Homo sapiens: one gene and its partners. The protein of the gene in region 2 purifies or fractionates together with the protein of the main gene of each other region. This does not show direct contact. Each region holds a gene or a part of one and is shown on either strand. Other genes may lie near its edges.

Region 1 (3,602 bases), on a different chromosome or scaffold from region 2:
TTTTTTTTTTTTCACTCCTCTGTGTCTTACTGTCTTAAAGTGTCTGAAAATTTGGGCTGTCTACTCTCCACACAGAGTTGCAGACCAGTCAAATGCTTTTATATTACTTACTTCTTACAGAAAACAATGTCCAGAACTGTCTGCACAACTTCTAGCCCTGTACTTGAACCTGGCAATCTAGTCATTCAAATGGTTATGAGTCAGCACACCTGGCATATGCAATGACTATGAAGCAAAAGGGAGGACAGCTCTGCAACTCTTTATTTGTAATTTTTGGAGCCAGAAGTGTTTTGATTTCAGTATCTTGTAGATTTTAGAAAACTGCAGTGCCTATACTACATATTAAGTAATCCCCCCTTTTGGGGTCTGGAGTAACATCCTCTAGTCAAAACACATTAATATTTCTGCACTGTATCAAGTCACATTAAGTATCAAGTCAGTATATGCTAAGTTTTGCTCTCAAGTGAGTTGCCACATGCTTAAGAATAATCTTTGTATTTTCAGAGCTTTACAGATTTTAGAACTGCAGATAAAGGATTTTCAACCTGTACCTGGTGACTTTTCTAGAAAGAGACAGGAGTATTTTGACCCTTTTATTTTCTTGAAATTGTGATTCTATGCTGACATCAAATTATAATTTTTTGGCCTTATGAGGTATATCATGAGGCAATTTTTTCACTAATATGTAAATTAAGACAGGAAAAAATAGCAAGAAACGGTTTTTCTAAAACAAGTAAGTTTTCCTTCAGTACAGATATGGAAAGTACATAGCAATCTTGTTTTATATTGTTCAAGAGCGAAGCCAATCTGTTACTCCTATTTGTTCCCTGAAAAGGAAAATCCGTTCCTTGGGGGCTTGGCTGTTGTTGAGGTATTTTCTGAGAATTCCGTTCCGTTATGTCCCCTCCCATTATATTTTGGCATTTAGAATAATTTTAAGACAGTTTTTATTTTGTATTGTATAATATTACCACTTTCCCCATTGGGCAACTAAGGTTTTTGTTTTGGTTTTTGTTTTTGTTTTAAATATGAACTCTGTTAAAATGTTTGAAATTCACCAAACCTGTTTTTACTATTTAGAAGCCAGAGGAGCCAACTAAAGGTAACTCACTATTGATTCCCCTTTCCTTTAGCAATTTTATGACAATATGTTTCAGCAAGTTCCTCTAACTTGGACTGAGAACACCGAAGTGACAATGGTAGAAGTGTTTTGCTACGGAAATCATCTGGAAAGCAGTGCATTTCAGCCATTAGTTGAATATTTTCTCATTTTCTTAATTTTTGAGATGATTGCAGAATTCACAGTTTTCTGCTTAACAGTCTGACGTACTTATATATGTTATTAAATATTTTGCTTTCTAATGCTTGATGAAACTGAGAGAAAAACTATCTTTTTTTTAATAGTGCTCTCGTGAATACTATATCTCCTATTGGAAAATATCCTTTCTTCGGGAGAACAGGTGTGGTTTTGTTGAGTTGCTTTCTTGTGAGAAGGGGAAAGAAATTTAATAATTCACCATAAAATTCACATAGTGATGCTTAGAAGAGCAGAGAGTGCTATAAACTCTAGATAAATTGCTCTCATTTCAGGAATTTCCGATTAGTGTAAGTATTAGCATGCATATGTTGAACTCAGAATTTCCGAACAGGCATATTCTGCATAAATCTGGACAATGACAATACTTTATTCATTTTTTGTTAGAACTATGATAGCAGTCTACTTTACCATATTGTCATTTTCACACTTACGTTGTGAGACATGGAAATGTAACAGATTGTACTTTATTGCCAGAAATTATTTGCTGATGAAAGTTGAAAGGGGAAAGATGATATCGATCAGAAGAAAACTCACTAAATTGAAATATGTAAATTGAAATATGTAAATTTAAATAGAAATAAAATGCACAGAAATTGCTTGTTCTGAAATGTGTAAGTAGGTTGGGAAGAGGAACCGGGTGTAAGACTCCAGGAGAGTAGCAAAGGAAAACGCTAAATCTTGTGCAATGGGGTCAAGTGATTTTTTATTTTTATTTTTTGCTCATAGTATACCTAGTCACAGTGAATTCTAGGTATGCTAAATTAAATAAAAAGGAATCCTTAAAATTACTATGAATGTTTGAAAAGAAGTAGTGCTTCATTATATTAAATCACAGTCTTTGCTATCTGGAACTTTGAACGAATGGATCAGTTTAGGCTAGGATAATTTTCTGTATAGTAGAGTCTGTACTTGTTTACATTTTATAATTTACCATTTTGGCTTCAATTCGTTAGTGTTGGCATTTTCATTGGGACAAAATATATGGCTTTGGCATCAGATAAACCTGGCTTTGAAGTTTAGCTTCTGCCATTTACTAGGTGTAATTTACGTGGACAAATTGCTTGAATTCTCTGTACTTCAGTTGTTTCACTGAAAAACATGGCTAAAAAAAAAATCACCAGAACAGGGTAATTATGAGGATTGAGGAAGATTGTATAAGTGATTATAAATTGTGGCCATAATTTCTCAAGTTTAAAAAACACTTCTTACCTATGAATTATTAAGAATTAATACATTTGGATTTTCTGTTTCCCTTTCCAATTGATTTACAACTAAGTTCTTCACTATAAAGTAGGTAGGCTGTGGGGTCTCTATATTCTGCCTAAGTGGCTCATGGTTTGAGAACAAATTGAGAACCAAAGTTTCTTATGTAAAATTGAAAAGCTGAGGAGACTTGGGGAAAAGTTGGATTTTGGAGTTACCTTGGGAATACTTTCATAAAACAAGTATGCATGGGTTTCCCCTACACTTTCTGCCCATTTTCTGATTTTGTAAGTCAGAGGTGGGCCCCAATATATGTACAAGTAATTCTCCTGTCATGCATTTTTTCTTGATTCAAGTTGTGTTTAATATAGTGACATCAAACTAGTTTTACACTGTTAAGTAGTGATTTAAAACTGACCTGTAGGAAAAAAGTCCAACCTGTCACCTTGCTTGAGTGGCTTAGTGTTTTGTTTATCATTATAGATTTGTTTCTTATACCTAGAATGTAAGCTTCACATGAACAGATTTTGTTACGGTAGTTCATTGCTGCCTATCCAGTGCCTAGAAAGATGCTGGGCAAATAACAGAAGTGCTGTATTATTTGTTGGGGAACAAATGTACGTATAAATAACACTGGGTTTAAAGGTAATAAAGGATATGTTAGAAATGTTAAATGGTTGTGCTAGTAGAGGTAGGGAAAAAAATACCAATATCTTTGAGCAAAAGTAAGTCGAGTAAAGTTTTGAGTTTTATGGCTCTCTATACCTTTATAGCCATTAAAACAGGAGCTTTGGAAGGAGTCATGCAATTTGGTTTCAACAGAGTCATCTTGTTGAGGCAAATGGTCCTAAAATCCAGCTGAGATAAGGGTTATCCCTACAGGGCTCTCATCCTCAGGTGAGGGAGGGGGTAGCCTCTGTTTTAAATATTTTTTAAAATTCTATTTTAATTTGTAGCCTTTTAAGCTACATTTTGTACTTTTTTTTTTTAGTCATTACTCTAAGGAACAGTATATATATATCCTTAACTTTTCATGTGCTACTTAGAGTCCATATTGTATCACCTTACGAAAGATGTAGAA
Region 2 (3,602 bases):
CCTACTTAGCAAACAAAGAGACAGACTGTTTCCTTTACTAATCATGTCTTTATAATCCGATGCCTATTTTAGCTGTTTTTTGACCATCTGTCTGTGTTTTGTTTACCTACAATCTAGCACTCTTATTGCCACTGTTGTATCATGATTCCACAAAAAAAAAAAAAGATATTGAAGCATTAAAATAGAAACAACATAATCATTCAGGTTATTGGGCCATGTTAAAAGTTGAGCCACCTAGCCAAAATGCACTTAAGTACACGGTGGGTCACAATTAAAATGGTTATGCATTTTTTTTAAGAGGGGGAATTGCTTTTTTACTCTACTAGCTAAAAAGGCATGAACTCAGATTTTTCAGGCTGAGATGTAAAAACCTATGGTGTTACTGCATTTACAAAATAGCATATACCTTGAATAACAGTAAGAGTCTGCTTTGTTACCTATATGGATCTAAATCAGTCTGTTGACACAAAATCTCTAATGGCAGAGTATCTATGATAGTCTACTCACACCTCTTTTTTTCTTCGCAAAAATATTAACCATACCATAATACCTTAATATTCATAATGAGGCTTAAGAATGCATCAGTAAGAAAACAGACTTAAAGAAATGTAATAGTTCTGTGGTGTTTGGAAAAAATAAAAAACACAGTTACTCACCATTAAAAAACCTCACCTCTAATCTCCCTTGCTTTCTATGAAGCTGAAATTACATTTCTTTTACTCCGTGTCCTATATTTAAACACAGAATCTCATAGATAATAATCATTCTACTGTAAGTTAAAATAAATGTAGTCTGCACACCAGTGAAGGTCAAATATAATAGAAACTAGAAGATCTTATTTTTTATCTCAAAATGCTACCCAATTTCTAAGAAATTTCTACTCAGCTAGCCTGAGGCTTTGATAAAGAATAAAAGTTTCCCACTTTGTAATTACAAACTTGTGATTGCTTAACAATGCATTTTCACTTACAAATCATGCTCTGGAAAGAAAAACAATGCACAAGAGCTTTTAGCAACTGGAAAGTTATTTGATTACAACTCTTTTGCAAAAATGAACTCCATATTTAACTGCAATCAGCAACCTTTTAAAAGCCTCTTTTGTGCTTAAAACCAGGCTTCCCAGAGCCTGCATCAGTCATAATTGGGTTTCTGAAGTCTACATAGCTCAGTTCATTTGCCTTCTGTGTTCAGATTCATAAGAGAATCAGAGTTTTATTAAAAATAAATAGGAAGAGGGAGAAATCCCAATATGCAGCATTGTGAACAAATCGATCTTTTCCAAAATGTCCACTGATATTTATGTATGCTGTATTCTGTCATTTATTTCAGCTGCTGGTAGGGATCATTCAGGCTGCCGAACTGCCCGCCTTGGACATGGGGGGCACATCTGATCCTTACGTGAAAGTGTTTCTGCTACCTGATAAGAAGAAGAAATTTGAGACAAAAGTCCACCGAAAAACCCTTAATCCTGTCTTCAATGAGCAATTTACTTTCAAGGTATTTGTTAACATTTATTTATAACCTTTCCTTTGTTGTTTTACTTAAAAGACTGATCTCATCCTGACACATACATAGACATGCACATGAATGCTTGTTCAGGCACTCACAATAATTCCAGTCAGAATATGCAAAATTCTTATCTTCACTACAGTCAACATTCGATATTGCCTTTCAGCGTGTTCAGAGTAGGATTCGGTTCAGTCATTTCAGAATGGAATGGACTAGAACATGACTAGGATGTCATAGTCACATCTAAAAAGTGAGATCCCTCCCTGAAATAAAGCCAAAGGAATGAAATCATTATTTTTCTGAATTTCAAAGTTTGTGAAAATAAGTACATCTGTTACAATCCCAGGATTAAGTAAGCTGTGTCCCAATGCTTAAATGGTACAAATAGACATGACTCTTGTAACAAAATTGTGTGTGTAGAGGGCAATTTGAGCACTTCAAAGTCATTCTTCTTAACTAATCAATAAAAGGAATATGAACATATTTTTTATTGCATTTCTAGCCTTCTTCCTTTACTCTAGGTTCTGCCCTGATGTTCTTCATCTTGTTGAGGCACCTCAGTTGACAAACAACAGAGAGATTCCAGCCATATAATATCTCATCAGGAAAACATGTCCTGCAGGTCTCCAGGATCTTCGTGGATCTTGGCTTGAAATCATTCATTAAAAACAATTCTTTTGGTGGATATCTTTAACGTGCGAAAAAAACTTTTTAATGCATTACTTAGAACAATATGTTTCTGAAAAATGAAATATCTGTGAATATGCCAGCAGGCTAATTCAAAATCACCACGTCCATCAGCCAGGCTTAGCATATGCCTTGTGTTGGCAAACATTCTGGGATGAAATAAATTGAAAATGAGGGCATGAGTCATTTTCTCAAACCTTGTTTTCAATTATGTAAAGGGGAAGTGTCTTTCTATTCACTCTAAAATTTCTGAGTTTTCAAGACAAAGGTCCCTCATGTATTGTCAGTAATCTTATTTAAAATCTGGTTTTTCTGTACCTAAGCAGTGAATTTAAAGTAGCAGTAAAGACATTCTGGAAATACTCAGTTCATGAAGAGTATCTGCTCATGAAGCTTAATCACTATAGTCAACATACTACGAAACGTAAAATGGAAATAAAATTTTAAAAATATTGTAATAGTAATCACAGTTGTTTTATTCATCTATTTATTAACCTTAACTTAGGTCAGCAGTTTCTGACCAAAACTTAGTAAGGAAATTCTTAAATTATATGAGCTAATGTATTGGGGCTTTGTTTTGTATTGCATTACCTACATTATTATTTCTTTAAAAAATGCTAATAATTTTATTAGTAATTTCTATAAAACCAAGTATAATTATTGAAATTTTTGAATTCTCTATACATTTTTATCAAGTTTCATTTTATTTCAGAAAGGTTGATCAAACTATACATAAATCCAAAGTATAATATATTCTGCTATATTAAAAAATACTTCAATTTTTCTAGAGAACTGGTTAGACATTGTAGATTACTCATCTTGAAATGCCAAGAGGCAATATGATACAGGAATGGAAGTATAAAAGACTTTAAAGAAGCCTGGCTTTACAATGGATTTAAATCACTTAACAGGAACTCAACATGCCCCAAATTAATTCATCTTCTTTTCCCCCAAAACAGTTATCTGAAGGAGCTACTAATCATTCAAACAATAAATATTTTTAAGTGCTTCTTCTGTGCTAGGTGTTTTACATATATTCATTCATCCCTAAAATAGCCCCATGAAGCAGCCATTATTACAGTATTATCACAATTTAATAGATGAATAAACTTATGTTTAATCACGTGCCCCAGGCCCTTTAGTTGGAAAGTCCAAATCTGGTACAAGGTCTGTCTGACCCCAAGTCCAGGTTTTTGACTGTTGCTCTTTGAGTACAATCACTAGAAAGTCTAGAGAGATTTTAGATATACAATAACATTTTCAAGGGTTTATCCTTACTCTAAAAAATTTTGTTTCTTTCTTTGAGAGTCAGCTCTTTGGAAGGGTTTATTTTCCATTCCTTCTAAAATGGAAAAAGGATGATGCTTACTTTTTAATCATATCATTTTAATAAAATAATCAGGTTC
Region 3 (2,968 bases), on a different chromosome or scaffold from region 2:
GGGGCAAAGGAGTTTGCCTTTTGCAAAGAAGGTCTTGCTTTGTATAGCCTGTAAAATGCAATGTACAGTGAGGGAAAGAAAGTCTAAGGGTAGCAGTCAAATCTTCTGGCCTGAAACTGTACTTTTGGAAGGGAGAACTGTTAGACTTGCTTTATCTTCTTTATTCCAAGGCCATAAATAAGAAAATCAACGAGAGGCAAAACCATGTCTTCTTTTGCTATAGCGTTAGAATCCTGAAAGTCAGCCAGCTCTGACACTGAGTCTGTGATTTAATTAAACATGTTGAAGGCTCTCCAACAGCTTGACGTCAGGCCAGCTTCATATTCTTGGAAAGGGACAACAGCAAAAGGAGCTTATCTGTTTTAAAGTTCACTTACTGAGTTCAGCTGTCACGGCCACAGCATACCATTTGCCTTATAAAAATGGCCCACAACCTTCACAATATTTTAGGATTCATGGCAACTCATTTACCTAGGGCTTAGCCACCTGATAGCTTTACCTATCCCTATTTCCTGAACACAAAATCTAAACCAGTGGTTTGACAATGAGTAACTGAGACAGAACTAGAAAAATCTAGAACCTCTGCTGAACCCATCAAAAGTGACTGAGAATTAAGAAGTAAGCAAACAAGGCTTCCAACCAATTGAAATAAATACCATGAAGCAAACGCATAAGACAAAGGCCATACATCTAGTCATCAGGCACCTCCTCAGAACCTATTTGCTCTTCCTTCACACATATTTCTAACTGTAAAGGAAAGAAACAGACTTTTAGAGGAAACAAGAAGGAAAAAGGAGGACAGCAATAGAGAAAATGGAAATTTTGAGTAGACTGCAAAGCTCCAAAGCCCTGATATATGGGTTATTTAGTGTCAAAAACAGTCTATACACATCTCAATCTTTAAGAGCCTCACTGTATCATGGGACAATATTCTATTTAAAATGATGACCCTGTGCACCATACATAAAAAAACTATGCTTAGAAGACAAAAATATGTATATCAAACATTTTAGAAATATTTACATCCCAATGGTTAAAAAAAAAAACTTTTAGGAATTAAAAGGAATAAACCTTTGACCATCCAGAATATTTAGCTAAATCAAACAGTGTATATCCCCCTAGCTGACTTTTATTGTTTCATGAGCCTCTGGTGTTCAGAGAGTTTTTTTCACAGCTTTGTAAGTGACTTTCATGCTACAGTGCTTTGCATATAATGGCATGAACAGTGGAGGTGCCAACTTTCCAATGTGATGAATAAAACTAATAACTAGAATACAGATCAAATTCTGTTACAACAAATACTGCTACCATAAAAGTCACTTAAGCATCCCTGTTAGTTCTAAGCCCCTGTCGATTGCCCATTTATTTTAGGCAATAGTCATTCAACAAAATTGGAGCATAATAAAAAGAAACTGGACCTCAGCGCAAGTTGAGTGTTACACAATTTAACCTGTAATAACAGGTTCTCACTTGTATTTCTCCAGCTCTTTGCTGTAAGAAGAATAAACGTTATGTAGATATAATACCAGCGTGACAGCTTGTGGTTGGTGGTTTCTAGAAGAAATAATTCAGAAGCAAAAGACACATGAAGTTATGTGGCAGTTCCTCACTAGGGAATTTGGTCTCCAGGGCCACTTTTGACCTTAATCCATGTTGGAGCCATCAATCAAAGAATTGCTTGCATCTAATAATGGTGTAATGCCAATACTAAGCCCTGGAACGAAGATAGGATTCATTTCTCATGGATTATTGAGCACTCTGGGGTAACCTGGCCCTGATCTGATGACGCTAAGATTTAAAAACCCAGATGCATGTGACTAGAACTATCTTTTCTCCCATGATGCACTGCTTTCAACACTGCATGACTGTAAAAACATGTGCCACGCTGATTATATATAGAGATGGTCTAAATCAGCTGCATCCCATTTGGTACCCAGGCAAGGATTTTTCCATACCTATCTTTTTGCTGGTGGTAATGATGAGTTTTGTCACTTGCTATAACATTCTCTGTCCGTCTTTTTTCTTTTATGTAAATACTTTTGTGACTTCATTGTAACCAGCATTTTGTAATACTCTTAACAGCAGAGGGGATTAAATCATGATTCACTTCTGAACAGTACAATCAGCAGTAGGAAAACGAGGAGGGAGGGAGAGGGAAATTGTCCACCACTTCCCAATGATAATGCCTGGCTCGGACCCCAGATTCACATCATACTTGAAGTTCATAAATTCTGGGCACTGCTCAGCTTGAGGAGGCAGGCATTGCTCCTTCATATTTCAGGGTGAGACAAATGCTCTGTTGAAGCCATGCCACTACAGGATACATTCACCTCTGCTTGCTTTCCTCCCTAAGCCAGAGTGTAGTTAAACATTTATATGTCCCAGGCCAGGAGATCAAATTAAGAGGAGGTTAGCTACTTTCCCTGGCTCTTAAAAACATTTGAGTCCAAGTATGGTTCTCTGGCTTGAGGGTGGCCATTTGTTGCCTCACTGTTTTTATTAGGACATCTGGAGATTAGAGGTGTTAATTGGAAGTAACTTTTCTATATTTGGTTTCTCTCCACACATTATGAGACCTTTTAGACCCAGTTGGATGGCTGTATCCTAGTATGAAATTCAGCTTCTAAGTAGGAAGAACTATGATAGAGGAACAAGATTGCTCTTTGACTTGGTGATAGTAGGGCAATAGGGAGTGTCAGTAGGGTAGTTTCAGGTGGGGAGGATGACAAACCACTGATAACAATAAAAATGGGTATTTCTCAACACTCAAGCCAATTTCCCATTTGATAACAAGTAGGTTCTGATCTATTTTCCCCAAATTAATATTTTCCCTGGAAGATTCTGACCTGTCTGATCAAATAAAGGCATTCCTCTGAGAGTATACCTAGCCCACTTGTGGCCAAATTATACTTGACTGTTATGTACTCAAAACAAGCTTTCCTGTTAATCTCTTTCTCTTACCTCTATT
Region 4 (4,083 bases), on a different chromosome or scaffold from region 2:
CTGCAAATTCCAGCAGAGATGCTGGCCTGAGAATACAGACTAGACCTACTGACAGTCAAGCAGAGGTAGGAAGTGCCTTCAGGAGAGGAAAGTGAGGCATCTGCCTTCATGTAGGAGACTGCACAGGCCCATGCAGATGCTCCATGTTGGTTAACAGGGAGCTCTGCACACACAACTCTGAACACTTTCTGCCTAAAGTGGGTGGGATCACTCCTCTCTAAGCCATGAGAAACAGATCCCACAGCCATCCCAGCCCAATCTGACCCTCATCACCCATTCACTCTTCTAATTCATTTATTCATTCAACAAACACTCCCGTAGGCCTGTTGGGGACCATGTCCTGGGCTGGGTCCTGGCTGTAGCAATTCTCAGGCCTGTTTGTAACTCTCTTGTCAGTCTGTTACCCCACTGCTGGGCCCTTCTCCACCCAAGTTCCCTTCCCCCAGATAGCTCGAAGGGCTTGTGCTCATCCTAGGTCACTAAGTTTTCTCACTGAAACACAGGAGACCTTCTCAGTTCACCAGGTGACCTTGAGCAAGTTCCCCTCCCAAACCACACCCAGTGAATACTGGAGAGAAGAAAGCTGACAGAAGCCGGGCTGGGTTAGGCCTGGCTGTGGGGACATCTGAGGGCAGCTAGGTGTCTGCAGAAGAGGAGGGGCTGGTGCTGAGGCCTGAGATGGGAAAAGACTGCAGTGGCTGGAGCCTGAGTGTCTGGTTCTGGGTTGGGAAGAATAGAGCCTGGGACTGGCAGTAGGAGTGGAGAGGGTGGCACCAAGACCTGAAAATGGGGCAAGGGTGGGGGCCGGGGCAAGCTCTGAGCTGGCAGGGAGCCAGGAAGGTCACAGGATCAGGGCAAGAACTCAGTTGTCTCTGAGGCCCTGGAGAGGGTGCAGACCTCTGAACCACCTGTCCTACCTTAAGGCAGGTGTGTTAATGCCCCTCCCTGGAGCAAAGGGCTGACCAGGCCTACGGCAGAAAGGTGAAGGTAGACAGACAGCCTCCTTCCTGCTGCCAGTTGGGACCTGGGCCAGGCAGATGGGTACACTCTCCCCTCCCCACTCCATGGCTGTTCCAGCCTCAGCAGCCAGTTTGAAGGATTCCCAGGGGGTAGCCACCTTGCTTCGGCCTCTTCCAGGCTGGGAAGTGGGAGCCTGTGCCTTTAAATTCTCAGCAGGTTGAAATGGCTGATGACATCACTGGTTCCCGGGAGCGGTAGAGCTGGAGCCGGAGCCAAGGGAGTCCAGGCTGCCGGGGGCTGCAGACATGGAGGGCCAGAGCAGCAGGGGCAGCAGGAGGCCAGGGACCCGGGCTGGCCTGGGTTCCCTGCCCATGCCCCAGGGTGTTGCCCAAACTGGGGCACCCTCCAAGGTAAGACCCCTGAGACCCAGTGCCCCCCGCTTTCCTGATCCCTGGTTCCACACACCCCCCCCACATACACTGCAGGCTCCCTGGTGCTCCTGACTGAGGGGCTGGTACTTTCCTCTGCTCAGCGAGCAGGGGCTAGGTGAAGAGAGCACCCTGGGGGCTGAGGGGCAGTGACAGGATGCCCGGAGACAGATGAAGTTAGCCATCTCCAGGAGCCCTTGGGAGAGTCCTGGACTGGGTATCAGAGGACCCAGCTGTGCTCCACCTTTGCTGTGTGACCTTGGCCAAGTTGCTTTTCCTCTCTGAGCCAATGCAAAATGAGGGGGCTTGTCGCTGAAGACTAAAACTGTGACATCTGGGATGGCTAAGTTGTTAGTACTGGAGGCGGTGTGATAGTTGGGGGGAAGCCGGCACACAGTGTGACACTTGGAGCCAAGGAGGGTGCCTAAAATGCCACCTCAAAGAACTGAGTTTGAGAAGGGAGGTGGAGATGGAGTTTTAGGTACTCTGAACTGAGAAGGATACGGGACAGAAACAGAAGTGCGTCTCCAGAGGCAGGGCCTCCCTGCGCCCTGTTACCCTACCTAGGGCCATCCTGGGGCAAGTATAGACATTCTTCTGCCCTCCTTGGTGAAGGACACTTTATCCTGTCTTCTGGAGACAGGGGACATCAGAGAGAATAGATGGGGAAGGAGGATAGGTCTCTACAGGACTCCGTGACTCCCCACCCCTCCCACCTGCCGGACATAAATGGGATACCTGCTTGCCTGTCCTTTCAGGTAGGGGAGAAAGTGGAGGATGTAAGAGGGCACAACCTGGGCACAGAGAGATGTGACACCAGGATCAACTTAGAATCCTGGACTTGCTCTGAATGCTAGATTCACACTTGGTGAGGATGGACTATTCAACGGGGCTAGATGGAATTCTAGCAAATGTTGGGCTCATAAATGCAGACAATGGGAGATGAAGATTCCCCAGAATATAATGTGGCCAGGAACCCTAGACCCCATCCCTTCATTTTACAGACAGAGAAACTGAGGCGCTGGGCAGAGAGGTACTTGCCTAAGGTCACACAGAGCTGGGCTTTGAATCTACACAGCCAGTCTCAGCTCCCAGCTCTTGCTCCTGAGTGGAGCTCTGGGAATGGGTAAGAGAACAGAGAGGGCTGTAACCAAGGGATTTGGATGTTTAGGGGGCGGTGGGGAACTGAGGGTTTCTGGGCATTATGAAGGAAGGGAGAGGTATTTAACAAGCTGCACCTGTAGGTCTGTATCTTGACAATAGAAAAAGAAAAGAAACAGGCTGTCCCCAGTGTGCCCAGACCTGGGATGTCAGGTCAGTAGCCGTGGCTGGGGGAGCTTCAGGGACTGCAGTGGGAGGGTTGCCCAGGGAAGCTGCCCCGAATGGGCAGGGTGTGGGTGCCAGCCAGGAAGGCAAGGCAAGTCCTCAGGTTTAGGTTCACACTCTGCCTCATTTGAGTCAGGGTCTGAGTTTCCCCATCTGTGAAAGAGGTTTCAGACTTAAAGGAGGGGTTAGGGTTTTGTGTCCTATCTCCTCCAAGACAGAAGTTGACCTGCAGCAGAATAGATTGAAGTGAGATAGTAGGAAGAACTTCCTTGGAAAGATGTGCCTTTCTTAGCTAGATGAACTCTGCCAGGGTCTATATGGAAGTTGGGGCCCAATGCCCTGGTTAGGGTCACTCTGAATCTTTGACTTGTCCTCCACAAGGTGGACTCAAGTTTTCAGCTCCCAGCAAAGAAGAACGCAGCCCTAGGACCCTCGGAACCAAGGTTGGCTCTGGCACCTGTAGGGCCACGGGCAGCTATGTCAGCTTCCTCGGAAGGACCGAGGCTGGCTCTGGCATCTCCCCGACCAATCCTGGCTCCACTGTGTACCCCTGAAGGGCAGAAAACAGCTACTGCCCACCGCAGCTCCAGCCTGGCCCCAACATCTGTGGGCCAGCTGGTGATGTCTGCCTCAGCTGGACCAAAGCCTCCCCCAGCGACCACAGGCTCAGTTCTGGCTCCGACGTCCCTGGGGCTGGTGATGCCTGCCTCAGCAGGGCCAAGATCTCCCCCAGTCACCCTGGGGCCCAATCTGGCCCCAACCTCCAGAGACCAGAAGCAGGAGCCACCTGCCTCCGTGGGACCCAAGCCAACACTGGCAGCCTCTGGCCTGAGCCTGGCCCTGGCTTCTGAGGAGCAGCCCCCAGAACTCCCCTCCACCCCTTCCCCGGTGCCCAGTCCAGTTCTGTCTCCAACTCAGGAACAGGCCCTGGCTCCAGCATCCACGGCATCAGGCGCAGCCTCTGTGGGACAGACATCAGCTAGAAAGAGGGATGCCCCAGCCCCTAGACCTCTCCCTGCTTCTGAGGGGCATCTCCAGCCTCCAGCTCAGACATCTGGTCCTACAGGCTCCCCACCCTGCATCCAAACCTCCCCAGACCCTCGGCTCTCCCCCTCCTTCCGAGCCCGGCCTGAGGCCCTCCACAGCAGCCCTGAGGATCCTGTTTTGCCACGGCCACCCCAGACCTTGCCCTTGGATGTGGGCCAGGGTCCTTCAGAGCCTGGCACTCACTCCCCTGGACTTCTGTCCCCCACCTTCCGGCCTGGGGCCCCCTCAGGCCAGACTGTGCCCCCACCTCTGCCCAAGCCACCCCGATCACCCAGCCGTTCCCCAAGCCACTCCCCGAATCGCTCTCCCTGTGTTCCCCCAG

Evidence for each region. The genes of interacting proteins can lie anywhere in the genome.
Region 1: the proteins of SYT1 (region 2) and CWC22 purify together in Homo sapiens (co-immunoprecipitation; 3 studies listed by BioGRID and IntAct, with this or other methods). This does not show direct contact.
Region 3: the proteins of SYT1 (region 2) and TRIM44 purify together in Homo sapiens (co-immunoprecipitation; one large-scale study listed by IntAct). This does not show direct contact.
Region 4: the proteins of SYT1 (region 2) and INPP5J purify together in Homo sapiens (co-immunoprecipitation; one large-scale study listed by IntAct). This does not show direct contact.

Annotation. Positions count from the first base shown.
Region 1 is NC_000002.12:179,997,231-180,000,832, reverse strand, and holds part of CWC22 (pre-mRNA-splicing factor CWC22 homolog), read left to right. Parts: intron 1-926; exon of another isoform or gene 927-1,102; intron 1,103-3,602. UniProt on the Homo sapiens protein: Required for pre-mRNA splicing as component of the spliceosome. As a component of the minor spliceosome, involved in the splicing of U12-type introns in pre-mRNAs. Promotes exon-junction complex (EJC) assembly.
Region 2 is NC_000012.12:79,294,740-79,298,341, forward strand, and holds part of SYT1 (synaptotagmin-1), read left to right. Parts: intron 1-1,329; coding exon 1,330-1,497; intron 1,498-3,602. UniProt on the Homo sapiens protein: Calcium sensor that participates in triggering neurotransmitter release at the synapse. May have a regulatory role in the membrane interactions during trafficking of synaptic vesicles at the active zone of the synapse.
Region 3 is NC_000011.10:35,812,740-35,815,707, forward strand, and holds part of TRIM44 (tripartite motif-containing protein 44), read left to right. Parts: 3' UTR 1-2,968. UniProt on the Homo sapiens protein: May play a role in the process of differentiation and maturation of neuronal cells. May regulate the activity of TRIM17. Is a negative regulator of PAX6 expression.
Region 4 is NC_000022.11:31,121,750-31,125,832, forward strand, and holds the start of INPP5J (phosphatidylinositol 4,5-bisphosphate 5-phosphatase A), read left to right. Parts: upstream 1-1,216; 5' UTR 1,217-1,265; coding exon 1,266-1,370; intron 1,371-2,146; exon of another isoform or gene 2,147-2,256; intron 2,257-2,392; exon of another isoform or gene 2,393-2,514; intron 2,515-3,095; coding exon 3,096-4,083. UniProt on the Homo sapiens protein: Inositol 5-phosphatase, which converts inositol 1,4,5-trisphosphate to inositol 1,4-bisphosphate.